Linked DNA regions of Homo sapiens: region 2 is linked to region 1. The links come from fine-mapping of genetic effects on gene expression. A gene starts in region 1. The other region holds a variant in brackets. All regions are shown on one strand. Distances are between the middles of the regions. Region 1 holds the start of TFAP2E (transcription factor AP-2 epsilon). Region 2 holds the start of ZMYM4 (zinc finger MYM-type containing 4).

What was found. PIP is the estimated chance that this variant, and not a neighbour inherited with it, causes the effect.
Region 2: its variant is the best candidate, but not a certain one, in a credible set for the expression of TFAP2E in stomach (GTEx, PIP 0.53).

The regions. Positions count from the first base shown.
Region 1 is chr1:35,566,789-35,581,997 of GRCh38, forward strand. TFAP2E (transcription factor AP-2 epsilon) reads left to right here and starts at 6,526. Exons shown (of 7, transcript NM_178548.4): 1 at 6,526-6,816; 2 at 7,139-7,621; 3 at 8,161-8,212. The coding sequence starts at 6,790. It overlaps TFAP2E-AS1 (TFAP2E antisense RNA 1), which reads right to left and starts at 11,074. Exons shown (of 3, transcript NR_183387.1): 1 at 9,878-11,074; 2 at 7,572-7,910; 3 at 3,023-3,131. RefSeq lists a silencer at 3,429-3,530 and enhancers at 6,490-6,989, 7,231-7,977, 9,675-10,527, 10,528-11,380, 10,633-10,722 and 2 more.
Region 2 is chr1:35,265,409-35,280,617 of GRCh38, forward strand. It overlaps ZMYM4 (zinc finger MYM-type containing 4), which reads left to right and starts at 3,301. Exons shown (of 30, transcript NM_005095.3): 1 at 3,301-3,677. The coding sequence starts at 3,639. RefSeq lists enhancers at 2,991-3,050, 3,071-3,130, 7,400-7,900 and silencers at 3,261-3,620, 3,691-3,820. The variant T/A (reference allele first, on the strand shown) is at 8,788.

The sequences.
Region 1 (15,209 bases):
GTGGTCTGCCCTGCACCTGCTCTCTCCCTTCCAGGCTCCATCAGTTCACAGCTACCAGGTGCTGAACACATGCCCTGCTAAACACATCATGAGACCTCATTCAGCCCTTCCAAGAATCCTCTGAAGGGTTCTGATTTTACAGACAAAGCAACTTTGGCATGGATAAGTGATTGGCTCAAGGTGTTGCCGCTAGTCAGTGCCAGAGCCAGGACTCCACACAGGCCATCCGACTCCCCAGCCCACATCTTTCACTTGTACAGCAGATTGCCAAACTCATGTTGATGTGGCCAGGCCTTGTGGGGGCTCTGGTGCTCTCAAGTACAGATGAAACACTGCACCCCCGCCCCCATGTCACTGGGTTGCTGCCAAGTGGCCCTGCCATATCCTCCCATTTTTAAAGAAGTCAGGAATCCTAATTTGTATGTGAAACCCAACTTTTGAATGTCAGTAACTATCTTTAATTAAATAACTACTGATCCAACAAAACATGCAGTCCAAATGTAGCTTTCAGGTTACCAGCTGTTGATCCTGTATGCCAAATGAGAAGCCAGAGGGCCTGCAAGCTTCAGCAGATGAGCCAAGTACCCACTATGGGTACTTCACCAGTCCTGAGCCAAAGCTGTGAGGTTGGAGCCAGACAGGCCCCAGACCCATACCCTCCGCAACCTCCTCCACCTAGGCCCTCAAACCTATAAGCACGTGCTGAGCATAGCCTATGTGCCCACCTGTGGTTGGCTATGCATAGACAGGAATATTTATTTATTGACTGGTTGTACTGAAAGCCATCTTCTTAGCATGGATTCTCTGGGGTAAATATGAAAAGACATAGAGGCTAGGTGTGGTGGCTAACGCCTGTAATCCCAATACTTTGGGAGTCTGAGGTGGGAGGATCACTTGAGCCCAGGAATTCAAGATCAGCCTGGGCAACACAGTGAGACTCCATCTCTACAAAAGAAAAACAATTAGCCGGGCATGGTGCCTCGTGCCTGTAGTCCCTGCTACTCCCGAGACTGAGGCGAGAGGTTCTCTTGAGCCCAGGGGTTTGAGGTTATAGTGAGCTATGATCACACCACTGCATTCCAGCCTGGAAGACAGGGTGAGATCCTGTCTCAAAAAAACAAAAACAAAAACAAAAAAACTGTAAGCAGTGGCTTCTATGTAGGTCCAAACACAGTGTGGCTGGAGCATGCGAGCCCCTCAGACTGGCCAAACGATTGCAGGAAAACTTACAGCAACTATGTGCTCTGAGACTTCAGGGTGAGGAGGGGCTTGCCAGGCAGACACGAAAAGGAACAGCAAGGTCTGAAGGCATGCAAGCTTGAGAACTACGAGTAGTTTCGCATTCCATGGTGTATAGAGTGTGAAGTGTGGAGTGGTGGAAGATGAGGTTGAACCAGCAGGCATGGACCAGATCCTACTGTGCTGTGCTCAGAAGCTTAAACGTGGAATCATGCTGAGAGATCAAATTGCAGTTTTGTTTTTTTTAGAAGCAGGGTCTCACTCTGTTGCCCAGCCTGATCTCGAAACTCATGGCCTCAAGTAATCCTTTTGCCTCAGCCTCCCAAAGTGCTGGGATTGTAGGCATGAGCCACCATCCCCGGCTAGACTGCAGATTTTTTAGCAGATTGAATGTGATCCCGTTTGCATTTTGGGAAGATGAGGCACTGCAAGAGGAATGGCTGAGCCAGGGAGCTCAGAGAGGAGATGCTAAGTCTGAACTAAGCCAGTGGCAATGAGGCTGGAGAAGATACAGGTAGGAGTTAATAGGACTTGGTGATTAACTGGAAGTGAAGAGGGGTAAAGAGAAGGGGAGTAGAACCAAGGATGACTCCCAGATTCCTGATCTGGGAGACTGAGTGGATAATGGGGCATTCACTGTCACTGGGAACACTGGGACAGAGACAGATTTGTGCATACCATACACAACTCAACTTGGTAAATGGCGAATTTGTGCTGCTCATGGTATATCCAAGGGGTAGTTGCTTTCTATGGTCTGGAGCTCAAGAAAAGTCTGGGCAAGTGACAGATTTGGGAGCTGTCAGTATAGAGGGTCCCTAAAGTCATGGGAGGGACTGAGATCATCTGGGGAAGTGAAAAGAGAAGAGAAAGGTCCCAAATAAAGTGACAGCCACCCATGGTCCCTGCTGTCAGGGTGCTCTCCCTCCCATAGTGGAGAAGTCAAACCCTGCAAAGCTTCCTAATACAAGGCAGACAGAGTTCTGTGCTTAAATGAGGTATGGTCAGAGAGTTCTGGCTTGCTCTTGGTATTTCAGCGGAGTGGGGAAAAGGGAGATCTGAGCTGCAGTTGTGAGATCTAACCACGAGATGGCGCCTTGGCATCTCCTTGTGCCAGATTTCCCCACCCTGCAAACACTCAGCCTGGCCTGGAGCAGGAGGTGATCAAAGGCTGGGAGGATGAGGGTGGCTGTGTCAACAATAAATGAGGCAGATCAGAGTTTTTTCTTAACATAAAATCCAAATGCAAGCTCACTTTTTGAAAAGAGAAGGAGCCTTGGAGAAAAGCAGTATGCCAAGTGTGCCAAATGGGAGTCCACGTATGTTTGAGCATGCAACTCTATGTCAATATATGTCCCATGTTCCTATGTGTACTTGTGTTTCCCATGAATGTCTCTGTGCAAGTTGTGTGCCCCATGTTCCCAAGGCTGTCTGCATGTGTACCCCACTGCACCCCAGGCCTCCACATGTGTGCATGTGTCCCAGGGAGCAGACAACCAGAAATCTCCACCTCCATGCCTCAGAGAGTGAGGAGTCCCTTGGCACTGAAAGAAGTAGTCCTGAGTCTGAAATCATGGGACTCTGATGTTTTAGGGAGACTCAAAGCAGCAGCAGACCATGGAGAACATCCCTCTCCCCAGTAGCCATAATCAAAATCACTCACTTATCAGATGATCTCTTCAGATTATACCTGGGTTCTATGTGTAGATACCCAGGATCATGTTCACATAGAGCCTTCCTAAAGGATCCCTTAATAGGCCAGTGGATTCATAACACCATCCATTGATGTGTTTATCATTTACAGTATTTAATAAGCATTCATTGAGTTCCTGCCATGCCCCAAGCACAGCGCTAGATACATTTTCTGTTTCTCCTTTAATCTTGTGAAGCAGTTCCTGAAAGAGGAAAAGTAAGTTAGTCACAACTGCAGAGTCTGGAATGCTCATTAGAATGTTTAAACTTTTTTTCCCCCGAAGATGGGTCATGGGGAGCCCTAGGAAAGTTTTCAGTAGGGAGGTAACATGGTCCAGTCACTCTTGTGGAAGTTGGAAATTGATCAGAAGAGATATGAATAAAGTCAGGAGACCAGTTAGAGAATTGTTGCAATGGCCTAGATAGTGGTTCTTAAACTTTAATGTGCCTCTGAGTCACCTTAAGGACTTATTAATAACACAGGTTGCTGGGCTCCACCCCCAGAGTTATTGACTCAGAAGGTCATGAGTGGGATCCAAGAATTGGGACTTCTAGCAAGCTCCCAGATATTGTTGGTGATGCTGGTCCAGGAACCACTCTTTGGCTGTGTTGCCCAGGCTGGTCTCAAACTCCTGGGCTCAAGGGACCACACTTTGAGAGCCACTGATCTATGAGTAAGAGTAAGGTAGTTTAAGGTGCTGAGACAGGGTGCCATGTGCCCTCTGGGATACCTGCCTCAATTCTCCACCACATACCTTCTGTGGGTGGATGTTTAAGGGTTAGAAATGGCAACACTCCATAAGGATTAGCTTGTGGGGGTTAAGGAAAGGACCTACGCTCTTCTGGGATGACTAGCAAGTTTTGAACTTGAAAAAGGGTGGTGTCATTTATGAAACTACAGAGCAAAGGAGAAGCAGGTTGGGGTTGGTGCTGGGGATAGAGGAGATGTTGAGTTCAGTGTTGGACTTGGAAAATTTCAGACAGCTGCAATGAGATGTCTGGAGAAAATACGCAGCTGGCAGCTGTGTCTATGGGTCTGGATCTCTCACTAGTGATTCAGGCCAGAGATAACACAGTTGGGAGATAACAGTAGACAGGTAGTCATTAAAGACTTGGGCCGGGCGTGGTGACTCATGCCTGTAATCCCAGCACTTTGGGAGGCTGAGGCGAGTGTTCACTTGAAGTCAGGAGTTCGAGATCAGCCTGGCTGACATGATGAAACCCTGTCTCTAGTAAAAATACAAAAGTTAGCCGGGCGTGGTGGTGGGCCCCTGTAATCCCAGTTACTCAGGAAACTGAGACATGAGAATCGCTTGAACCCGGGAGGTGGAGGTTGCAGTGAGCCGAGATTGTGCCACTGCACTCCAGCCCAAGCAACAGAGTGAGACTCTGTTATAAAAAAAAAAAAAAAAAAGACTTGAGAGGGGATGAGCTCACTCATGAAGAGTGCAGGAAGAAAAAGAAGCTTCTCTGCTCTGAGAAAGAATTACCGACATTAAGCATGTAGGTGAAAAGAGAAACAGAAAAGAAGACAGAAATGGTCGGAGTAGGACAATGAGGCAAAAAGGGGCTATCAAAGGTGTAGGAAGTAGATTGAGAAAACCCAAGGAAGCCACAGACAGGCAGCACATCCCGCCACTCTGGCCTTCCCAAGCTGCTGGAGAGAGCAGGGGCATCCCCGCAGCTGGGCACAGGCATCATCTCCTTTGCGGCTCCTAGACTTCTCCCAGAGGAGTTCATCAATTTCTATTCACGCACTGACACCTGTCCTGGAGCTTGACTTCTGATGCCCTGTGGCTGGGGTTGAGGGAGGGAGGAACAGGGCATTGCCACAGACTCCCTCATATATAGATACACACAAACACAATCCTGATCTCTGACCCATCTCGAGCAGGAAAGTTGCAAAGCTTCCCAATTCCGCTTCATCCTCTGGAACCTCGCTGGCGGTTCCAGACTTCAGAAAGTTCTTAATGATGAATCCTTGGCTTCTAGCCTCCTTCTTTCCCCACCACTCCCCAGGCTGAGATCATCCAGCCCTGAGCTCTGCACCTGCCATGTGCCTTCTGGGATACCCACTTGGAACCATATATTCCATGAGTTAATGGTGTCACTATCACCTCCTCTTCTATATCAATAATTTTACCTTAATCTTCTCATTTACTACTTCACTAAAAAGGGACCTAAAAAAACAACTAGTCTTCTCTGCCTTCCCCTACTTTTTTATTGGTGTTGTCGAAGTTGCAGAAACTGAGATCACAGAGGAAACGGGATGTAGCTAGGATCACACAGTTAGGCAGAGTCAGGACTAAATCCAAGCCCCTGAGTCTGAGGCAGTAGAGAATAGTGATTCTGAGCAGAGAGGGGCCAGGGGCAGATCACCCCAGCTCTGCCACTTAGCTGCTTGACCTTGGGCAAGCCATTTAACCTCTCCATGCCTCACCCCTCCCCTGAAAATGGGGATGATATGGGTATCTCTTTCATAGAGCTGCTGTGAGGGTTAAAGAACCCAATATTCGTGAAGCACTTTGCACAGAGGCTGGCACATTCTGTAATAAGTCTGCTGTGATTATTTCTACTTTGCCCTGGTCTGCACATCTTGCTTTTAAAAAACATCTTTCTTCTGCTTTCTTAATTCCTGTTCTCCTTAGCATTCCTCTCATTTGTCCATCTTTAATCCCTGTCTCTGCTTGTCAGGAGGGGAGGGTTGGGTTTGGGGAGAAAGAGAGAGTGACTACAGAGACTGGAACTTGCTTGACAGCCAGGGAGTGCCTGCCATGGTAACACAGGAACATGTAGCCTGCGCATGTTAGTGTAACAATCACACGGCATCCATGCTAGTCAGTTACACACAGTCACTCAACAGTCTCTGGGTATCTCATGCCCACACTCAATCAGCCCAGGACCCTGTGGCTTCAGAAATATCTTGGCCCCTTGTCAGGTGGAGCTCATACCCAAACCCATCCCAGGCAAGTCTCTCTCTCTGTCTGGCCAGCTTCTGTCTCCAACTCCCTCAGAGCCTGGCTTGGCTTGGAAGTTTTCAGCCCAGGAAGCCTGAGAGCGAAGTGGGCACCTTCGAGGGATTTTGATCCAGAACCATTCAGGAAAGACTGTGATGGTAGACCCCCTAAACACACGCACTGACACTGTGTGCGCATGAGCAGATAGGCTGGAGTCTTCAGCTCACAAACTTCTTCCACGTTCCCGATTACCCACCTCATCCAAAGTCTCTTGAGGTGCTTAGAGAAAGGATTGATACCTATTTTACCGAGGAAGCTGAGGCCAGCGAAGAATAGTGCTTTGCTTAAAGGCAAGGATGTGATAGAGCCAGGCAAATGTAGGGCCCTTGCGTCCCAGCCTCGAATATTTCTGTTTCACTGCAGCTGCGAGCTGCGAGCCCAGAAGGCGGCTCTGATCAATGTGGGCTGAATTCACGCCCCCTACCCACCCTACCCGATCCCGCCAAAGCCACTGCCTCCCCTGTGGCAGCCGCTGGGGAAAAGGGAGAGAACTGCCATAGCTTGTCTCTTTAATGCGCGCCCCCGGAGGCCCGGCGCGCCCCCGCCACTATAACTGGAGTGCATGGAGCAGGCTACGCTCAGAGGAGGAAGGGCGGGCGCTGGGCACCCGTTGACCGACTTTTCCAAGTGCGATCAGTGCCCGTCCGTCCTGCCTCCATGGACCCGCCCGGGAACGGCCACCGCTGAGGACCCCACGCCCACTAGGATCCCGGCTGGGTCGCACCCAGCTACCGCACCGTGACCTCCGCGGGCTGTGCCGGCTCCCGGCGCCTCTGCCCGCAGCGCTCGCCGTCGGGCTAGGGCTCCGCCGCCGCCACGCCTCGCGCCCGGCACTCACCGCCCCATGCTGGTGCACACCTACTCCGCCATGGTGAGTAGTCTCGGGCCCGGGACATATTCGGCCGGGGGATCGGGGCGCCTGAGTGCTGGACTTTCCAACCCTCCTGTCCCGCGCTAACGAAATCTCGGAGGGAGGGGGCCGCAGGGACTTCGCCAGCTGAGAACGCGATGCGCAAGTGACCGCTGTCCCCAGCCTGAGGCTCCTGCGCCCGCGGGTGGCTCGGAAATAAACCTCGGGCCCCAAGAAACGGGAGGGACTGCAGCTGAACCCTCCCGAGCTGAGGAGGATCCTTTCAGGCTGGGGTCCTTTCAGCTGCCAGTGGGTCACCTAAGGCACCCCTCTCCTTCCCCAGGAGCGCCCCGACGGGCTGGGAGCAGCTGCCGGCGGGGCCCGCCTGTCGTCTCTGCCCCAGGCGGCCTACGGGCCGGCGCCCCCGCTCTGCCACACGCCGGCCGCCACAGCTGCCGCCGAATTCCAGCCGCCCTACTTCCCGCCGCCCTACCCGCAGCCACCGCTGCCCTACGGTCAGGCGCCCGACGCCGCCGCAGCCTTTCCCCACCTGGCAGGGGACCCATATGGCGGCCTGGCGCCCCTGGCGCAGCCGCAGCCTCCTCAGGCCGCCTGGGCCGCGCCCCGCGCAGCCGCCCGCGCCCACGAGGAGCCTCCCGGCCTGCTGGCACCGCCCGCCCGCGCCCTGGGCCTTGACCCGCGCCGTGACTATGCCACTGCCGTGCCCCGGCTCCTGCACGGCCTGGCCGACGGCGCGCACGGCCTGGCAGACGCACCTCTCGGCCTTCCGGGGCTGGCGGCGGCCCCCGGTCTGGAGGACCTGCAGGTGAGACCCGAGGGATCCGGGATGGGTCGGGACTGGCCGCGGTGGTTTACTACCATGGCTGGAGGCAGAAGGTGACAAATGCAGGAAGCCGACTTTTCTCCCAGCTCGCCACATCTCACTGGTGACTCCGAGGATGTGTCCCACCTCCTGGGTTAGACGTTGCCTGGCCATCAAGGCTGCCTGGCACTGAGTCCGCCAGCAGTGCGTGGGTGGCAGCAACCCTCGGCAGGGACCGAATCACTTCTTTTCTCCCCGCTGCCACGTGTGGCATCCATGGGGCAGCCTGCACCTGGGGCGAAGAGAAGCATAATAGTTACCAGTGTAAGATTCAAAATTCCCTTTTTGCACTGCACAGTGAGATGCCCAGGGCTCCAGCTCAGTGCCTGGACATAGCGATTCCTGGGCCTGCCCGTCGCCGCCCCAAGCGAAGCTGGTGCGCCTTGGGCGGAGCAGACAGAGACCCTGGGTGGCAGGGGCTTGGGAAGACATGGGCGGCTAGGGCTTTATGCGCCCTCACCGCTGCCCTCTGCTATTTGCAGGCAATGGACGAGCCGGGAATGAGCCTCCTAGACCAGTCCGTGATCAAGAAAGGTAAGGAATGGTCTGTCAGGGCAGAGCCCGGCGAGATGGTGCAGGCCCTTGGTGCACAGATCCATTTTCTTCACCGGCCGTGCCTCCTGTGTGTCGCCAGGCTGGGTGTCCACCAGGCACTCTTCCTGGCCCAGCCAGATGTTAGGCAGACGTGCGGGCTTGGTGAGTTTGCCCAGCACCCTGTGGCCTGGGGTGGGCCTCAGCGGATCAGCATTCACTGGGCTGCAGCACTGGGAGCCTGGCCTCTCCCCGCCGAGGGGGAGGGCACTCTTGTGGATCTGGAGTTGATTTGCAGAACGAGTTAAACCACTTCCCTGTTTCCCTAAGAGATGGGAATGGAAGTGCTGTTCCCACGGAGTTGGGGAAATGATTTTCACTTTACAGTGCCTTAGCATTTCGGTGCCTGGCGGGCACTTTCTTCCTCTTCCTTCCAGGCAGGGCCTTGGAGGCCTCTGGGGGAATTTTCTTTCTGTGGGAGTCTCTTGCGGCATTTAGACTTAGGGGAGCTTGTGTGTGAGTACTGTGTGTTAGGCTGTGTGCACCTGAGTCAGGGCCCACCTGCTCCTGGGTGTCTGTGTCCATGTGAGTTCAGGGTCCTGTGCATGTCTGAAATGTTCCCTTCATGGGTGTCTTAGTATTTCTTGGAGTGTGAGTGTGTCTGTTTCTGTGAATGTGTTTGTGAGGTGTGTCTCTGTATGTTGGTGTGCATTTCTCTGCATTTGGGGGATGTACACATTTCTCAATATGTACAGTATCTCTGTTGTGTCCTGCACTTTGTTCTTTGGTATCTGAGGATTTCCAAGCATGCGCGGGCCCTCTCTGTGTATATATAGGAGTATTTATGTGACTCCTGGCATTAGTAAAATCCAGGGACACGGGATCCACCTTTTCTGGCCTGAGGACCAAGTACTGGCCATGACAGGGGAAGGTGAGAGACGACAAAAACAGAGAGACAGCCAGAGAGGAGCAGAGAGTCAGAGGGGCCCAGGCATTGGGTAGCAGCCTCTTTACATTTGGGGCAGGTGCCCGAAAGAATTCAGAGGTGCACATGAGCCTGAGGTGCCCCAGGCAGGCACTGCTCCCACAGGGTTTGGCTTGAGTTGTTTTTCAAACGAGTGAATTCAAGCCTGGGCTCTATTTGCCCTCCACTTGTTCTCAGGGGAGGCCAAGGTGGAAGTGGTGGTAGCAGGGCTGGGGCTGGACTTCCAGGAGCTGGGGCTGAGTTACCAGGAGCTGGGGGTTGGGTGGATGACTTGGAGTGTGTAGCAGGGAAGATGAGGCAACAGGGCAGGAAGTGGGTGGGGGGAGGTGGAATTGGGGCTGTGTCCTGTGTCGCTTGGAACTGGGAGTGTGGGAAAGACACTAGGAACCTGGTTGCAGCGCAGCTCTGCTGGTGGGGCTTGGTTGGCTTACTGTACAGAGCCTTTCTTGACCCCTGAAGAAAGAGATCCGTCTGCAGTGGGCAAAAGCCTGCCTGGACTTCCTGGCCACCAGAAATATGAGCATGGTGGTGGTCCCCAGTTCCCTATTCATGCTTGGGCTCAAGAGACTGGGAGTCTAGGTTCACTGACTCCCTGAGAAAGACTAAGACCCTGCATTTTAGAAAGAGGTTTGGGGATCTCTGCCCTGCGCAAGGGTAGAAGGATCAGCTGTTCCTCTGAGCACCTTAACCCGGAACCCCGGTCCGAAGCCGAGACAGGAGACTGGATGCGAGGCCCTCCCAGAGCTGGTTTCTCTCAAACAACTTCCAAAACTCCTAGATCCTAGGGGTACGCCGAAATCCCCCAAAGCAGTCCAAAGAACACAACGAGAGTCCTAACATCCCAGGTGGCGGCGCGCTGGCTCCCTGGAGCGGGGCGGGACGCGGCCGCGCGGACTCACGTGCACAACCGCGCGGGACGGGGCCACGCGGACTCACGTGCACAACCGCGGGACCCCAGCGCCAGCGGGACCCCAGCGCCAGCGGGACCCCAGCGCCAGCGGGACCCCAGCGCCAGCGGGACCCCAGCGCCAGCGGGACCCCAGCGCCAGCGGGACCCCAGCGCCAGCGGGTCTGTGGCCCAGTGGAGCGAGTGGAGCGCTGGCGACCTGAGCGGAGACTGCGCCCTGGACGCCCCAGCCTAGACGTCAAGTTACAGCCCGCGCAGCAGCAGCAAAGGGGAAGGGGCAGGAGCCGGGCACAGTTGGATCCGGAGGTCGTGACCCAGGGGAAAGCGTGGGCGGTCGACCCAGGGCAGCTGCGGCGGCGAGGCAGGTGGGCTCCTTGCTCCCTGGAGCCGCCCCTCCCCACACCTGCCCTCGGCGCCCCCAGCAGTTTTCACCTTGGCCCTCCGCGGTCACTGCGGGATTCGGCGTTGCCGCCAGCCCAGTGGGGAGTGAATTAGCGCCCTCCTTCGTCCTCGGCCCTTCCGACGGCACGAGGAACTCCTGTCCTGCCCCACAGACCTTCGGCCTCCGCCGAGTGCGGTACTGGAGCCTGCCCCGCCAGGGCCCTGGAATCAGAGAAAGTCGCTCTTTGGCCACCTGAAGCGTCGGATCCCTACAGTGCCTCCCAGCCTGGGCGGGAGCGGCGGCTGCGTCGCTGAAGGTTGGGGTCCTTGGTGCGAAAGGGAGGCAGCTGCAGCCTCAGCCCCACCCCAGAAGCGGCCTTCGCATCGCTGCGGTGGGCGTTCTCGGGCTTCGACTTCGCCAGCGCCGCGGGGCAGAGGCACCTGGAGCTCGCAGGGCCCAGACCTGGGTTGGAAAAGCTTCGCTGACTGCAGGCAAGCGTCCGGGAGGGGCGGCCAGGCGAAGCCCCGGCGCTTTACCACACACTTCCGGGTCCCATGCCAGTTGCATCCGCGGTATTGGGCAGGAAATGGCAGGGCTGAGGCCGACCCTAGGAGTATAAGGGAGCCCTCCATTTCCTGCCCACATTTGTCACCTCCAGTTTTGCAACCTATCCCAGACACACAGAAAGCAAGCAGGACTGGTGGGGAGACGGAGCTTAACAGGAATATTTTCCAGCAGTGAGCAGGGGCTGTATGGGACGCGGGAGGAGCTCAGAGGAGGCGCGGAGAGTGCCCGAGGTTGGGTGAGTGCCTAGAGGGGAGATAGTTGAACCGGGTTCAAGAGGTGCTTAGTGGGTGTTTGTTGAATGAATGAGTGATGGGCTTTGAAGTCTGAGTGCATTGAAAGAGGGGGTGTGTAAAAAGGGCTCCTTTCATCACACAGGACACAGCATATGCAAATCCTCTCCCTGTGGAAAAGCCAGACAGGTTAAAAAGGTTACAAACAAATTAGCCGGGCATGGTGGTGCGCGTCTGTAGTCCCAGCTACTAGGGAGGCTGAGCCAGGGGAATCGCTTGAACCCGGGAGGCGGAGATTGCAGTGAGCCAAGATCGCGCCACTGCACTCCAGCCTGGAAACAGAGCGAGACTCCGTCTCGGAAAAAAAAAAAAAAAGTTACAAACCGTGTGTGGGTTTCAGGTTATACAATCAGAGCTGGAGGGGAGTGGTCAAGGATGAGAACTGAGATGGATCCCTCGTTCCCTCTGGAGGAGAGTGGGTGGTTGCCTACTTGGGGGTGGGGAATCCCTCTCCACGGGCTCAGCTGTCCAATCTCAGGGGATCTCTAGGACAGGAGCTGATGTAAACAGTCGCCCTATTCCTTGCTGTCTTTGGCCCTGGAGAAGGAGGAGGGAGCTGGGGAGGGTCTCCACTTCCCAGACAATCTCTAAGCAGCCAGGACATGGGTGAGATGAGTGAGATACTGACTTCTGGGACAGAATTTGAGAGGGTGCCAAAAAACTCAGTAATCAAGATAAATAGGCCGGGCGCAGTGGCTCACGTCTGTAATCCCAGCACTTTGGGAGGCCGGATCACTTGAGGTCAAGAGTTCGAGACCAGCCTGGCCAAGATGGTGAAACCCCATCTCTACTAAAAATACAAAAATTAGCCCAGTGTGGTGGCGCTAGCCTGTAATCCCAGCCACTCAGGAGGCTGAGGCAAGAGAATTGCTTGACCCAGGAGGCAGAGGTTGCAGTGAGCCGAGATCATGCCACTGTACTCCAGCCTGGACAACAGAGGGAGACTATCTCAAAAAAAAAAAAAAAAAAAAAAAAAAAAAAGAGGCCGGGCGGCGGTGGCTCACACCATGTGATCCCAGCACTTTGGGAGGCCGAGGCGGGTGGATCACCTGAGGTCTGGAGTTCGAGACCAGCCTGGCCAATATGGTGAAACCCCGTTTCTACTAAAAATACAAAAATTAGCTGGGTGGGGTGGCAGGCACCTGTAATCCCAGCTACTCCGGAGGCTGAGGCAGGAGAATCCCTTGAACCTGCGGGGCGGAGGTTGCAGTGAACCAAGATCACACCATTGCACTCCAGCCTGGACAACAACAGCAAAACTCTGTCTCAAAAAAAAAAAAAATCTTTTTTTTCGAGACACAGTTTTACTCTCTCGCCCAGGTTGGGGTGCAGCACCACGATCTCAGCTCACTGCAACCTCTGCCTCTCAGATTCTCGTACCTCAGCCTCCCAAGTAGCTGGGATTACAGGTACCTGTCACCACGCCCAGCTAATTTTTGTATTTTTAGTAGGGGCGTGGTTTCACCATGTTGGCCAGGCTGGTCTTGAACTCCTGACCTCAAGTGACCTGCCCGCTTCAGCCACCCAAAGTGCTGGGATTACAGGCGTGAGCCACCACGCTTGGCCTTTTTAAATGAAAATAGTGCAAAAATCCACGATAAACAAAATATCAAAAATTTACTGAACTTGCACTTCCACAACCCTTTCTCACCTGCCTCCCAGGCTACTCTCTGCCCCAGAAAGCAACTTAAAAAATGTGCAGATGGAGTTTGGACTTTACCTGAAAATGGTGGGAGCTATGGAAAACCTTGGAGCAGGGGAGTGAAGGATAGAAATTATATGTAAAAGAAACCCTGGGCCGGGCGCAGTGGCTTATGCCTGTAATCCCAGCACTTTGGGAGGCCGAGGCAGGTGGATTACCTGAGGTCAGGAGATTGAGACCAGCCTGACCAACATGGTGAAATGTCATCTCTACTAAAAATACAAAAAAAATTAGCCAGGCATGGTGGTGCACGCCTGTAGTCCCAGCTACTCCGGAGGCTGAGACAGGAAAATCGCTTGAACCCGGGAGGCGGAGGTTGCAGTGAGCCAAGATTGTGCCATTGCACTCCAGCCTGGGCAACAAGAGCAAAACTCCATCTTAAAAAAAAAGAAAGAAAGAAACCCTCTGGCAGTTGATGAGAAGGAAACTTAATCGGCAGGTCCCAGCAGGGGAGATGAGGAGACTCTAGGGAGGGCATTTGCACATGCTGTGCCCCAGTGTGGGCCAGGGAGCAGGTCACTACTCCTCCCGTCTACCTTCCTCTTGCTCCAACCCCTTCAAGCTTTGGACCAGTGGTACCCTAAGTGTAGTCCAAGGAACCACATGCATCAGGACCCCCAGGGGGTGCTTGTTAAAAATGCAAATTTTGGCCAGGTGCAGTGGCTCACACCTGTAATCCCAGCACTTTGGGAGGCCGAGGCGGGTGGATCACGAGGTCAGGAGATCGAGACCATCCTGGCAAACACGGTGAAACCCCATCTCTACTAAAAAAACAAAAACAAACCAAAAAAAACATTAGCTGGGCGTGGTGGCGGGCGCCTGTAGTCCCAGCTACTCGGGAGGCTGAGGCAGGAGAATGGCGTGAACCCGGGAGGCGGAGCTTGCAGTGAGCTGAGATTGCGCCACTGCACCCCAGCCTGGGCGACAGAGCGAGACTCTGCCTCAAAAAAAAAAAAGCAAATTTCTTGGGCACCACCCCACATTGACTGCATGAGAACCCCTGGAAGTATGGCCCTGGAACTTGCATTTTTTAACGATTTTTTGAGGTAAAATTTACATACCTAAAATTTACACATTGTAAGAATATAATTTGATGATTTTTAGTAAATGTAGAGTTGTGTAACCATTACCACAAAAAAATCCATTTTGAGGCATTTCTGCCATCCCCAGAAGTTCCCATTTGTAGCTACTCTCCATTCTCACCCCAAGCCTTAGGCCACCACTGATCTGCTTTCTGTCCATAAATTTGCATATTCTGGACATGTTCTATAAATAGAATATATAAATATGCAGACTTTTGCATCAAGCGTCTTTTGCTTAGCATAATATTTTTGAGGCTCGCCCCAAACATTATGCTAAGTAAAAGAAACAGCAATAAAAAGAAACAAACTATTATCAGCAGTTTGTTTCTTTTTATTGCTTCATAGTATGCCATTGTACGGGTGTAACATATTTTGTTTATCCATTGGTCAGTTGACGGGCACTTGGGTTGTTTCCACTTTTTAGCTGTCTTAAATAATGTTGCTATGAACATTCACATACATGCCTTACTATAGAAATATATTTTTAGCGCTTTTGAGTAAACTCCTAGGAGTGCAATTGCTGGATTATATGGTCGGTTTAGGTTTAATTTTTAAGAAACTGTCAAGCTATTTTCTAAAGTGGCTGTATTATTTTGCATTCTCACCAGCAATGTGTGAGGGTTCCACTTTTCCACATCCTACACTTAGAATTGTCTTTTTTTTCTTTTTTTTTTTTTGAGATGGAGTTTCACTCTTGTTGCCCAGGCTGGAGTGCAATGAGGTGATCTCGGCTCACCGTAACCTCTGCCTCCTGGGTTCAAGTGATTCTCCTGCCTCAGCCTCCTGAGTAGCTGGGATTACAGGTGCGTGACACCACGTCCGGCTAATTTTGTTTTTTTAGTAGAGACGGGGTTTCTCCATGTTAGTCAGGCTGGTCCTGAACTCCCGACCTCAGGTGATCCACCCGCCTTGGCCTCCCAAAATGCTGGGCTTACAGGTATGAGCCACCATGCCTGGCCTTTTTTATTTATTTATTGTTTTGAGATGGATTGTCTCTCTGTCACCCAGGCTGGAGTGCAGTGGCACAATCTCGGCTCACTGCAACTTCTGCCTCCTGGGTTCAAGCAATTCTCCTGCCTCAGCCT
Region 2 (15,209 bases), 300 kb before region 1:
AGGAGCTAAATGCAGACCTGCTCTTTTTTCCCAACTACATCAGGGCATGACTTTTGCTCATATGTGGCTGTCTGCTTGTTGGTATGGGCATAGTCTGCAAGTCATCTCTACTTGGAATCTTAAACAGGAGCAGAGTAAGAATCCTCTCTGCCTTGAAGAGCTGGAATGGGAAGACAGGAGCACATGTCTCTCAATGATGCCTCTCTTACTTTTCTCTTTGTTCTTCTTCTCTCTACCCTTTTATTAAAAGAGTCAGACTTTTCTTTTATTTCCCTATATGCAGCCTCATGGCTTAGCTGTCCTGGATGGAAGGATATTTGGGTGGAAGGCATTTCCTGTGGAGTATGTAAAAACTCTATGAAATTATTATGTGCTGAGCTTCATAGATTAAATGGAACTAAGAAAATTTAGCAAATTCTTTTTCTCTCCATTCTGTTCTCTCCTGATTGGGAAAATAAGTCTCAAGGCTACATTTCAAGCAAGAGTCTATGACAGAAGATGACTTAAGAAAGTTAAAAGAAATCTGTTTGATATTTGCAAGATACTAGCCCCATTATAGTCTAGTTTTTTTTTTTTTTTTTTTTTGAAACAAGTCAGAGCACTGAACTTGTAGGTGAAATATCCCATTTAAAATGTTGATATATGATTTAACTTTTTTTTTTTAAAAAAAAGATAATGGCCGGGCGCGGTGGCTCACGCCTGTAATCCCAGCACTTTGGGAGGCCGAGGCAGGCGGATCACAAGGTCAGGGGATCAAGACCCTCCTGGCTAACACAGTGAAACCCAGTCTGTACTAAAAATACAAAAAGTTAGCCGGGCATGGTGGCGGGTGCCTGTAGTTCCAGCTACTCGGGAGGCTGAGGCAGAAGAATGGTGTGAACCCGGGAGGCGGAGCTTGCAGTGAGCCCAGATCGCGCCACTGCACTCTAGCTCGATGACAGAGTGAGACTCTGTCTCAAAAAATAATAATAATAATAATAATGATACTCATATGGTATTAGGAACCAACAGTGTTCTAGGAGATTTAGAGATGTTAACTAATTTAATCCTCTTGGTGTCCCATTTTACAGATAAGGAAAGTGAGGCACAGGACAATTACCTTGACCAAGATCATATAGCTATACACAATACAAATCAAATGCATTTCTGTGGGACAGATTTGGTCACAAGGCCACCAATTTACAATGTCTACTTTACGATATTTCAAATAAGTCAGAAAGAACAAGGCTTTGAATTCTGACTTGGCCTCTGTGCTGAATGATCTTGGACTAGTCACTTAAGCTCTGTGAATCCTTCTATAAAATTATGATTAACTTTTCAGTGCTCACTAAATGGTTTTCTCTTGTCTTATTCCTCCATATGGATGACTGCCCTGAACATTCATGTTATGCTTGTATATTATCTGAAATGCACAAATCCCACCTATTATTCGAGACCTAACACATTGCTAATACCTCCAGAAACAGTCTGTGTAGGACAGAGCCCTGAGGATCAAGATGTCTGTTTCAGTCTTGATACTGTTACTAATCCTGTGTGTGATCTCAAGCAAATCATATCTTCTCTAAGCCTCAGAGGCTTCATCTTGAAAATGTGGAGTTAGACTAAACTAATAAGTTTAAACTGTGATCTGAGAAACTCAACATTTCTGTAATGATGGGAGGGGGCATGAAAGGAGAGAGAGTGCAAGGGTGAAGCTGGGTGAATAGACTAGTGGGTTCCCCACTTACACTCCCAACTTAGCAGCTCCACATTTTAAACCACCAGATTTTATTAGAAGGGAGTATTCCACTGCCAATAAAACAGGTGGAAACCACTACAAGTTTTATGTAGCCACATTCCCTGGAATTATCTTTTCTTGGCTCCTCTTTTCTTTCTTGTCCTGGACATGGAACTAAAGGGAACATGTTTTTAAAATTCTGGCTGAAATGAACATATTTCTTTGTCCTTCTTTCTTCTCTCCTACCGAGGAGTGAAATTAAAGACAGTGCTAAAGGCATAAGCAAGGCCAGTATGGAAACTTCCAGCAATTTCACCAAAAGTTTTCAGCAAAATATTACAGATTAGAAAACATCTGTTTCAGAATAGCTACCAAGTGCTAAATAAAACAGAAAACAGAAGTTACATCTCATTATCCTGTGACTTCAGGAGTTATCATTCCCACTTGAATATGTCTTGTCATGGGAAATGACCTTCAGGAGGCATCTTCTTTGTATTTCTTACTATATGTCTCCCCACTGTCCCTGAACTATCATTATAAACTTAATTTTTTCTGCACCCAAAGCTTGTGGGAACTAGAATGAACAGAAGAGGAATGAATGAAGCCCTCATTCTTTTCAGCGATTTTCAGCTTAGGACCCAGTTTTGGAACAAGATAGACCCAAATCTACTTCCTGGTTTCCTGCTTAGAAATAAGATGCTTATCCTTTAAGGCAGATTGTCAAGCTCCTTCAATAGAGGTGAATGAGGACACCCATCATCTGCAAATCATTACATCTTCACAAGAGAATTATGATATTCTCCAAATACCATGAAACTTCAATTTTTAATCTTCTAGGGATATCAAATTAAACCAAATTTATCTCTCGCCTGAAGACAGCCTGGAGGACTGAGACTGTAATCTTGATTCCAACTCCACACCAGCCATTAGTTACATTGGGACAAATTCCTTCCCATGATCAGGCTGCAATTTTATCATTGGGAGCACTGGAGTAAATGGTTCCCTAAGATCCTTCTCCATTTTGATGTTCTAAGGATAAATTACTATTGAAGAAATTATTTCCAGTTGTTGGTTCAATCTTCAAAATCACCAAAAGCTTTGATTTTAAGGTGAGGTTATAGGAGTTGGCTCTTGATATTCTATGCCTTGTGCTTCAGAACAGGCAGTCGAAAGGGAGGAAAGTTGGTTTTCCTTGAGATGACTGTCTTGTTCCCTCATTGGTTTGGGATTCTTCATGTTCAGAGGTCCACTGAGAACTTCAGCTTACCATGACTTTCCCTCTTCAATGGTACCACTGTAGTCAGGTGTAAGATGGTGATGTGGAACCCTTCACTGACATTGCACCCAATTCTCCAGATTGTCTTTCCAGTAATTTCTTTCATTTCTCCTTCATCCCTGCGTCATGGTCCCTTTAAGGGAGCGGCCATAGTTGAGTGGTGGGAGCAGCTGCTGGCAGCAAAGAGACTTGCAGGATTTGGCCTACCCATGGCCACTTACCGCGCACGCTCAGGACCGGGGGCTTGGTGGGAAAGGAAGGAGGGACTTAGGGTGCGCCTGCGCATCAGGGGCGCGCGCAAGGGGCTGATTTGGTGATCCCTTTAAGAAACCGCAGGCGGAGGAATTTCTCTGAGAGAAAATAATCCTACTCACGGGGCCCCTTGGAGGCCATTAACCCCCCGAGTCCCGGCCCCCACCCCGTCCCCGGGCAGGCCCTCCCGCCCACGCGCGGACCCGTGGGATCTCAGAAGCTGCGGCCCGGCGCGCGGCATCCGCCCCCTCCCCACTCTCGGCGCAAGGCCCGGCCGGGTCCGGGGAAGCTGCCGCGAGGCGGCCGTGCCTGCAGTGTGGGCGGGGGCCGGGGGGCCGAGAGGTACCGCCGCCACCGCGCGGGGAGCCGCAGCGGTTCCGAGCGGGGCCCAACATGGCGGAGAGAGAGGTGGAGTCCGGCCCCCGAAAGAGGGTAGGTGAGGTGAGGCAGAACTCGGGCGGCGGGGGGCGGGGCGCGGCCCGGGGCCGGGAATGGGCCATACTCAGGTTCGTGGAGGGGTCGCCGAGGCCCAGTTAGGACAAGGTTGCGGGCAGGTCTGAGGCAGCCTTGGGTCCGGAGCGCGCTGGCGAGCGGTCCCTCGGCAGGTGGGACAAAGATTTGGTGCTGGGTGGGGGGGAGGGGAGGGGGCCGTTGTTTGCCTTCCTCCCCCCGACGTTCCCCAGCACTGGGGTGGGATATCTAGGCCCAGGGAGGGGAGGTGTCAGATTCTTAAGTGCATCTTTAGTGCATCTTTAGTACATCAGAGTCTGGAAGTTAACTGGGGAGAGGTCAGGTGGGGGTGGTGGTGGCGGGAATAAGTCGTGGAGGGGTCTCAGGAGAAATAACCGGAGGGTTCTTCAGTAACACCATCGCGAATTCATTTTCCTGCCTCCTTTCCCCTCCCCCCATAGCCGTTATCTAGACCAAAGTCGGGGTGGTGGTCTTACCTGTGAAGAAGTGGGATCGTTGGCATGTCCTGATTTAGGAGAAAGATTTTGGCTACTATGAATGTCATGTTCTAGCCTAGCCTCTTACTCGCAATTAGGGACTTGGAAGAATACGACAAGTTTTCTCATAACAGGGATGTACCCAATCAACCTGCAGAGGTGAAGCCAATTCTACATAGGAGTTGTTTGAATACCTTTTAAAGTTTGTCTGGAAACTTTCCTTATTTAATTCTGAGTGGTTTTTTTCAGATGGCGAACAATACTGTACTATCGATTGAGCAATATCCCTCACTTTTCTTTTACTTCCTCCCCGCTTAGCATGATAAGAAGTAAGTTTCCTTTTAGGAGTCTTCCTTTTGGGAATGGTTTCAGAAACGATCAATTAGCAAAAGGGCAAAAAATTACTACTTTATGAAGAATGCCCTTTCAGCTTAGCGTAAAATTAGTAATCTCGTAATGATGCTACAGCTGATGTTTTGAGTGCTTACTGTGTGCCTGGCACTGAGCTAAGACCTTTATGTGAAGAATTTAACTTCATAGTAACTCCTCCTAGAACCTATTTGCAGATGAGGAAATTTAGGTGTTGAGGGCTTAAGTAATTTACTTAGATCACACAGCTAGTTGCAAGGTTGAGGTAGGATTTGAATCCAGGTTTGTCCCAACTATAGTGCCTGTGTGGGATGCCACAGAGGAGTTTCTTTAATCTGTGTTTCTCTCCTTAAAAGCTTAAATTGTAAATGACCAAAGAAGTGTCAAGTATTATTTTTTCCAACAATTTATTAGGAAAATATTTTGAACTATCCGTCAATATTATAAAACTTACGGGGAGCAGTCATACACCCAACCGCCTAGATCCTACTGTTAACATTGCATTCCGGACATGCACAGCGGCTCACGCCTGTAATCCCAGCACTTTGGGAGGCCGAGGCGGCAGGATCACTTGAGGCCAGGAGTTCGAGACCAGCCTGGCCAACATGGTGAAACCCCGTCTCTACTAAAAATACAAAAAATTAACCCGGCGTGGTGGCGGGTGCCTGTAATCCCAGCTATTCGGGAGGCTGAGGCAGGGGAATCGCTTGAACCTGGGAGGCGGTGGTAGCAGGGAGGCGGTGGTAGCAGTGAGCCGAGATCGTGCTACTGCACTCTAGCCTAGGTGACAGAGGGAGGCACTGTCTCAAAACCCCCTCCAAAAAAAAAATTGCATTCCACTTGTTTTATCATATATTTACCCCTCTATCCCTCTTTCTGTTCATCAGTCGTGTTATTTTAATGCATTTCATCGTAGTGTTTTGAACAATAAATTTTTACCATTGATAAGTTTACGAAATGTTGGATTCACCTAATGCAATAATTAGTCATAGAGCAAGTTAAGCTGTATGATGGTATGTCCAAATAGTTTTGTAAGTATAAATGTTGTGTATGGAATGCATGTGTTTTGAAATTTTAAAATTTTCAAGTTGTGTTCAGTTTTGAACTAGATCCTTACTGTGCTTGGATGAAGGCATATGGCATATAGTCCACCAATGAAAATATACAGGGTAAATTACTTAAGATATGTAATGTTAATTCAGGGAGATTTCTGCATCCAGTTGCTGTGAATGTTGTCATTCACCTTCTGTACTAGGATGTTCTAGGATATTCTAGAAAACATTGATGTGTGTTGACAACAAATTCAACTAGATTTTAAATATATTCTGCCTCTTGTCGTACACTTAAAAGATGTTACTGGTCTTGTGAATCTTCTGCTAAAGGAATGCTGGAAAAAAAAAAAAAGATACCATACTGGTAGCAGTAAAAACTTTATTATTATTATTATTTTTGAGACAGAGTCTTGCTCTGTTGCCCAGGCTAGAGTGCGGTGGCGCAATCTCGGCTCGTTGCAACCTCCGCCTCCCGGGTTCAATTAATTCTCCTGCTTCAGCCTCCCAAGTAGCTGGGATTACAGGCAAGCACCACCATGCCTGGCTAATTTTTGTATTTTTAGTAAAGATGGGATTTTGCCATGTTGGCCAGGCTGATCTCGAACTCCTGACCTCTGGTGATCAGCACACCTCGGCTTCCCAAAGTGCTGGGATTACAGGTGTGAGCTACCGGGCCTGGCCCAAAAGTTAATTTTATTTTTAACAACCTATAACATACGCAGGACTTGTATAGGTTTCCCCCATTATTTTGCCAGTTTCATCACAGAGGAAAATTACATTCATTGATTTTTGGAATTAATGGTGTGGTGGCACATGCTTCTAGTCCTCGCTATTCAGAGGTTGAGGTGGGAGCATTGCTTGAGCCCAGGAGTTGGAGGTTGCAGTGAGCTATGATATTGCCACTGCTCTCCAGCCTGGGTGACAGAGGGAAACCCCCTCTCTAGAAAAAGTAAAAATAATACATAAATAATATTTTTTGATCCATAATTCATTTTGTTTTTGATATTTCATTAGAATGTTCGGTATGATTGTCTTAAATGATATAAGTACTTTTTTCCACTTTTTTTTGGTGTGTGCCAAATTACATGTGGATTCCATATGTATACTCCAAGCCGATTAATGGGGACTATGCAGTACCATGTCTTTGGAAATTGACTGCCTTGAGGGAGTTGAAACAAACTATCCACATAGACTTAGATAGTAACTTTAGGCTATTCAATCTGAAATTGCATTGATGACATGGTATTGTACTTAATGATGCTTACTGCTTTTGACCTTTGTAATCATGTCACAAAAAAGTTGCTAAGCACCTGTGCTATTTCATAAGCTACATGCTAGGCATTGTGCTTTGTTACTTAGGGTCATTTAGGATAATATATGCTGGCTCTCTTGATAAATTGTGAACTCCTTTAACATAGTATCTATTTCATTGCTTTTTGCGTCTGGACATCTTGTGACCTCTACACAGTAGGAACTCAAAAGACTTGCTGACTTATTTTTGTAAGAATAGCTTACCTAGTACAGCAGAGGCTCTATGGGTTGAGTACCAAGTTCTCTGCTTTGTAATTTTGAGGGGCTCTGTAAATCTTTCATAGCGTCCTTTACTCCCCAGAGTTCTCTCCTATGGATCCAGATTTAGGGATCTTCTGATTGTTCTGGATTATGGTTAGATGGGCAGGTGACTGCATTTTTTGTTGTTGTTTTTGAGATGGAGTCTTGCTCTGTCGCCCATGCTGGAGTGCAGTGGCGCTATCTCAGCTCACTGCAAGCTCCGCCTCCCGGGTTCACGCCATTCCTTCGCCTCAGCCTCCCGAGTAGCTGGGACTACAGGCTCCCACCACCATGCCCGGCTAATTTTTTGTTTCTGTATTTTTAGTAGAGACGGGGTTTCACCATGTTAGCCAGGATGGTCTCGATCTCCTGACCTCGTGATCCACCCGCCTCGGCCTCCCAAAGTGCTAGGATTACAGGCGTGAGCCACCACGCCCAGCCGGTGACTGCATTTTAAGACCATTGGGTTAACAACCTTAAATTCTAGGTAGGCCTGCCTGATGTCTTGTTTTTATATTTGTGGGCAGTCGGAACACTTGTATTCAGAATATGCTGGAATGCTAGTCTCTCAATTTGTGAACACGGGGGAGCTGAGTATGTGGGTGGATCAGCGCTATATTCATCTATCATCTCTAGTATAGAGAGAATTAAGTTCATATCCTAGTGCCTATACATGAAGGCGTTACAGCAAGCATCACACCCACACAAATACATACACACACACACACTTTAAAGTTGGCATATTATTTAATTTTTTTAGATGATAAAATTTTTGTTTTCTCAAATAGCTTTTAAGACTCATTAGGTAGGCTTATTATAAATGATTGAATTATTTATGCATGGCTATTATAATAACCAGTATGTTATGAAGTATGAGGTCTAACTAAATCGGGCGGCCATATTTTGTTGTAAAATCCTTGTCTTTTCAAAGTTTACATACAAAATAATAACTTTTGTAAATGTAAATATTACCCGGTCTAGTAAATTGTATTCATTTTCATACTTAAAATTCTGTGTGTATTAAATTTGAGATGTATATACCTGGTATGCTTAAAAAAGAGAGAAAGCATATGTATAAGTAGTATGCTTCCATTTTTTGTGAAAAACAAAACAAAACGACCTTTCTTGCCTCCCCACATTTGTGTCTGTATATGCTTGTACATGTATGAACTTAGAGAAAATTGTGGAGGACACAGTTTGGGATATTACCACTGATTACCTTCAGTGGGTAGGGAGGAGAAACGAAAGAGAGTATAAGGGTGCAAATTTCACAAAGTGGAAAAAGTATTCATGGTATAATGCTAAGTGAAAATGTAGACTATAAAATGTTATCTATTAATATATAAATCTGTGAAAATTGAACACACATATAGACAGTAGAAAATACGAACAAATGAAAGCATTGACTTCATGATGTGATGGGATATGGAGAAGTTTTATTTTGAATTTCTGTTATTTTAATATTTTATAATAAAATAATTGCAAAAGATTGATCCCTCTTAATTCCTTAATTAACTTTTTCTCTTTTCTGTCTTTTTGCTAAATGTATTACTTAAAAACATGGCGGTACATATCATTACAATATTTGCGGTTTATATGTATGCAATGTGAATAATTTGCTTT[T/A]AGAAAGTATTGACTCTTTGTTTAGAGACCATTTGAAGAGGCCATTCAAATACAGTGATTCTGCATTGTTTTCACACTGCTTCCCATCTTGTAACACACAGAGGGATCTGTAAATAATAATACTTGTGGCTGGGTACAGTGGTTCATGCTTGTAATCCTAGCACTTTGGGAGGCCGAGGCAGGAGGATGGCATGAGGCCAGGAGTTTGAGACCATCCTGGACAACATAGCAAGACCCCATCTCTACAATAAATTAAAAAAATTACCCGAGGTTTAGTAGCCTCGTCTACTCATGAGGCTGAGGTGGGAGGATTGCTTGGAGGATTGCTTGAGCCTAGGATTTCGAGATTGCATTGAACTATGATTGTGCCACTGCACTTTAGCCTGGGTGACAGAGCAAGAGAGACACTGTTTTTTTTTTTAAAAAAAAAAAAAAAAAAGGAGAGGCCATTCTAATACTGAGAATGATTCTGAGTTGTTTTCACACGCTGGTTCTTCCCATCTTGTAATAAGCAGAGACATCTATAAATAATGATAATACTTGGTATTATAAACCCTTAAGTGCCAGTCATTTTTCTAAGTATTTTACATGTGATGTATTTTTCAACCACAATTATTGTCCCATTTTATAAATTAGGAAATTAAGGCACAGAGAGATTTGCTGGAGATATGATGGCTAAATCAGGATCAATTATTACTTGAACTGGTCCTGTTCGATCATATAGGTTAGAACTTTTGTTTATCCAGAAATATTATGGTTAGTGTTTATATTCTCATTTGTAAAATAAAGCACATAATTCTTTATCTGGAATGTATGGATGTTAGAATAATTTGAATTACATTCAAACAAAGTTGATGTAAGTTACTTCTTAGGAATCATTAAGTTAACTTGTTCCCTAAGAAATACATTTTTGTTTGAGATCATCTTAAAATATGTATTCACAGCTCACATTTATTTTTTAGAAAATATACACTAAATATTTTGAAGCTGTGATTTACTTTAAAGATTATGTTTGTACTTTTTTTGACAATGGAAAGATTTTCTTTTTTCTTTTCTTTTTTTTTGAGACAGAGTCTTGCTCTGTCGCCTAGGCTGGAGTACAGTGGTGCCATCTCAGCTCACTACAACCTCCACCTCCTGGGTTCAAGCAATTCTCCTGCCTCAGTCCCCCGAGTAGCTAGGATTACAGGCGTGCACCACAATGCCCAGCTAATTTTTAGACAGGGTTTCACCATGTTGGCCAGGCTGGTCTTGAACTCCTGACCTCATGATCTGCCCGCCTCAGCCTCCCAAAGTGCTGGGATTACAGGCGTGAGCCACTGTGCCTTGCCAGAAAGGTTTTCTTACTAAAGAATATGTAAGTAGATAAATATAAAATTTCAGTTTCTATGGATACTTAAGAGGTATTTTTGAATTCTGTATTAGGAGAACAGCCACTATTTAAAGAAAAGTGATATTTCCCTTAAAAATTCTGATTATTTTACTATGAGCTAACTGTATGTACTTACTTTAGCAAAGGAGAAAGGCAAGTATTGTATAAATGTACTGTATTCAACCCAACAAAATTGCTAATACTTGACCATTTGACTTAAAAAAAAATGACACTTTTATGTGGCTTAGCCATTAGCAGGAGCATGGGTTTTTCAAAGTCAGTTTATGGTATAATCTCTGGAATTTAGCAATTTTGGGGTAGTAATAGTTCTTATCCAACCTTCTCATACCTATACCCACTTTCTTGTACTTAGGAAATATTTATATTGTTATTTTAATTTCATTCATATCATCTTTCTGGCCTCCTAGAAGCTTTAATTAGCTGCCTTTGACCAAAGATAGTCCTTTTTTTTGTTTTGTTTTGGTCTATCCAGCGTATAGAACCCAGCACTGTCAGTTCTTTGAGAACCCAGCACATATCAAGAATCATATGTGTTTTTCTTTCTTTACACTTCCCAATATGTCTTACAAATGTATTTTAATACTGACATGCATATTATACATTTATAAGCCAAAAATTAATCTACTATTCCTGTCTCATCTAACTACTCATTTCTGTCCCTCCCTCCCTCCCTCCTTCCCTCCCTCCCTCCCTTCTTTCTTCCCTCCTTTCCTTTCCTTCCTCCTTCCTTCCTTTTTTTCCATAGTTGAAATAATTTCAAAGAAATAACACACATCACATCATTTAATCTATAAATACTTCCGTGTGTATTTCTAACAGATAAGAATTTTTAACAAGCACAACCACAATACTGTTACGACCTAACAAAAGAGTTCCTTAATCCAGTCTGTGTTCAGACTTCTCTTATTCTTTAAGTGTCTTTTTACACTGATTTGTTTAAATCATCCAACTAAGAGTTACACATTTCATTTAGTTTATATGTTTCTTAAGTTTTTCTTAACCTTAATCACCTCCCCCCACCTTTTTTTTTCTTTTTGAAATGGAGTTTTGCCCTTGTTGCCCAGGCTGGAGTGCAGTGGCGTGATCTTGGCTCACTGCATCGTCCGTCTCCTGGGTTCAAGCGATTTTCCTGCTTCAGCCTCCCGAGTAGCTGGGATTATAGGCATGCACCACCAGCCTTGGCTTATTTTGTGTTTTTAGTAGCGACAGGGTTTTGCCATGTTGGCCAAGCTGGTCTCAAGCTCCTGATTTCAAGTGATCCACCCGCCTCCGCCTCCCAAAGTGCTGGGATTATAGGCATGAGCCACTGCACCCAGCCAATAATCCCCTTTCTTAACTCATACCCCCTGTGCTCCTTTCCCATGCTATTTATTTGTTGAAAAAAATAGGTTATTGTTCCAGGATAATTTTCCACATTTTGGATTTGGCTGATTGAATCCTTGTTATGGTATTTAACATGTTCCTTTACCCCTCATATTTCCCACAAATTAGTAGTTAAATACAGAGCAGTGGTTCTGAACTTTGGCTAAAACTTTAGAATTATCTGGAGAGCTTTTAGTTATCCTGATCCCTAGGCCACATCTCCGATAAATTAATCAGAGCCCATGAGGTAAAATGTCATCATCAATATTTTAAAAAATTTACCAAGTGATTTCAGTCTGTAGCCAAGATTGAGAGCCCTAGTTGGTAGAGCTTGATGAGTTTAGGTTCAGTTTCTTTGGCAAGAAATATTTATAAAGAGTGGTTATATAATTTATTTGCAATCAGACAATTTTGAGAATGAAAGGGGGTGCTATAATGATTACACAGAAGGAATAGTTTAAACTGGAATTGTTCTAGACAAATTAGGATTTATAGTCATTCCATTAGATGGGGCTGTGAATTCTTGTTGGATCGTTCTAGGAGGTAACTTAAGTGGTGGTTCTACTTTTAGTGATACTAAATGGATCATTTGGTTTAGGTTCTGTCAGTGGGATCCAAATGTAATTTATTTTTAACTTTTCACTTAATGATAATTCTTGCCTATATCCATTATTTCATTAGAAGAGTGATTTTTTTTGGTCATTTCTTTTGTATTTATTAACTGGAATTCTTTCATAAAGAATTCCCTCATCAATTATTTGGTTACCTTGTAATACGGTTTGTAAAGAAAAAGCAGGATAAATGCTTATTTTTTTCCCCTTTATCAGTAATTTTCAGAAAAATGAATTGATGCCCGCCCTCACAACTCCCAAAGGTGAGGTTTGGGAGGGAGTATCATTAGGAACTCATGAGTTTTACCATATGTGATACATTCTAATTTATCATAGTCATTATTTTTGGTGTTCAATTTGTTGTATCTTTGATGATTGGCGGTCTCTTAAATTAGTTTCCTAAGGCTGCCAAAAAACTGCTACATACTTGGTAGCTTAAAACATCAGAAATTATCTCACAGTTTTGGAGGCTAGAAGTCCAAAATCAAGGCTCTAGGGAAGAATCTTTGCTTGTCTCTTCTATCTTCTTGTGGCTTGGTTGGTATTCCTTGACTTGTGGCGGCAAAACTCCTGTCTTTGCCTTCATCTTCCCTTGGTCTTCTTTCTGCATCTTCTTTTCTGTCTCTTAGGGTCTACCTTATTCCTGGATGTTCTCAGCTCAAGATCCTTACCATAATTACCTCTCCAAAGATCTAGTCTGCTCACATACTGTGGTTCTGGGTGGACATAACTTTTGGGAGCCACAGTTTAATACACTACAGTTCTTTTTTTGACCCCTAAAACTTCATTTACATCCCATATGCAAAATAAATTCACCTCATCCCAACATCCTCAAAAGTCTCGACCTATTACAGCATGAACTCTGTTTTTTTTTTTTTTTTTTAGATGGAATTTCACTCTCTCGCCCAGGCTGGAGTGTAGTGGCAGAATCTTGGCTCACTGCAACCTCTGCCTCCTGGGTTCAAGCCATTTTCCTGCCTCAGTCTCCCAAGTAGCTGGGACTACAGGAGCGTGCCGCCATGCCTGGCTAATTTTTTGTATTTTTAGTGGAGACGGGGTTTCACTATGTTAGGATGGGCTCCATCTCCTGACCTCGTGATCTGCCCGCCTCGGCCTCCCAAAGTGCTGGGATTACAGGCATGAGCCACCATGCCCAGCTACAGCATGAACTCTTAAGTCCAAAATCTCCAAATATTATAACCTCAAAAAGTTTGAAATCTCATTGTCTTAAATCATCTAAATTAGGTAAGAGTATGGACTCGGCATGATTCATTTGGGATAAAATTCTCCATCTGTGGACCTGTGAAACTGGAAAACAACTTATCTGCTTCCAAAATACAATGATGAGAGGATGAGACAGCTGTTAAGATAGACATTCCCATTCAAAAGGAAGAAAATGGAAAGAATAAAGGATCTCCGGTTTCAAGCAAGTTCAAAACTCAGCAGGACAAATTTCTCTAGGTTTCAGGGCCTGAGAATAATCCTCTGTGGCTTGATCCTCTGCCCTCTGGGCCCATGGAGGCTCTGTCTGCAGCTGGTGTGGGCCTGTTTCTCCCCTACCCCCAACCCCCACTATGCTGCTCGCCTTCAGTCATTTTTACTTTTCCCTGAAGGGTTGCACATGTTTGTAGTTGAGTAACTGTATTAGCCCATTTCTTGCCTATAAAATCCCAGAAGTAAGACACTTTAAAAAATTTTGTCCCATCTCTGTTCCTTTCAGTACAGGCTGACAGCATTTTTGTTGGTATGATATTCTTTAAAACCTTGTCAGTCTCCTTACATATCAAGGGGGTCCATATCATTAGACGAGAGGATTCTTCACAGTTCCTTACTGATAACCCCATCTCCATTCCTCGTTTCTGTTGAGATGATTGATGGGATCCATGAGTCACACTGCTAGTATCTTCAGCATATGGTTGTCCAGCCACGTGGCCTGCTCTCTAGAACACACTTTTCTAACAGTGAATTTCCTAATTTCCGCATCCTTTGTATTCTGAATAATCTGAGAACCTCCCAGTTAATCGTTGTTTCCTTTTGCTTAAAGTTCCTTCTTCAATTTATCTCTTTCTTCTTGTATTTTACTATAAATATCAAGGAGGAACCAAGCTGTACCTTCAGCACTTTGCTTGGAAATCTCCTAGGCTAAATATTCAAGTTCATGGCTTCCAGATTCTCCTTTCTATCCCACAGTAGAACATAGTTCAGCCACTTTATAACATAGCTCACCTTTCTTCCAGTTCCCAGTCACATATTCTTTATTTACTTCTGAGACAGCAACAGAAGCATCCTTAACCAAAATATTGATATGAACCAAAATGTTCACAATTCTGTGTATGTATTCTCTAAGACTACAGAAGCTTTCTCTTAGTTGCTCATCACATCCTTCTAAACCCTAACCAGAATTGCCTTTGACATCAGTATTTCTACCACCATGTCTTTAAGGCAGTCTGTACTTTTCTAAAATCATGCATCTCAAAACTCTTTCAGCCCATTACCCAATTTCAAAGCCACCTTTACATTTTTTTTTCTCTCTTTCTCTTTCTTTTTGTTACTTTCTTTTCTTTCTTTGTCTCTCTCTCTCTCTTTCTTTCTTCCTTCCTCCCTTCCTCCCTTCCCCCCTTCCCTTCCCTTCCCTTCCTTTCTTCCCTTCCTTTCTCTTCCTTTCCCTTTCTCTTTCTTTCTCTCTTTCTTTCTCTCTTTCTCTCTCTCTCTCTCTCTCCCTCTCTCTCTCTTCTTTCTTTGTTTAAAAGTTTTTTAATAGAGATGGTGTTTTACCATGTTGCACAGGCTGATCTCGAACTCATGAGCTCAAGCAGTCCTCACACCTTGGCCTCCCAAAGTGTTGGGACTACAGGCATAAGCCATCATGCCTGGCCCACCTTCACATTTTTAGATATTAAAGCAGCACTCCACTTCCATGTACTAAAATCTGAATTAGTTTCCTGGGTTTGCCATAAGAAATTACCACAAACTTGGTGGTTTAAAATTAAAGAAATTTATCATCTCACAGTTCTGGAGGCTAAAAGTTTGAAATCAGGATGTTGGCAAGGCCATGC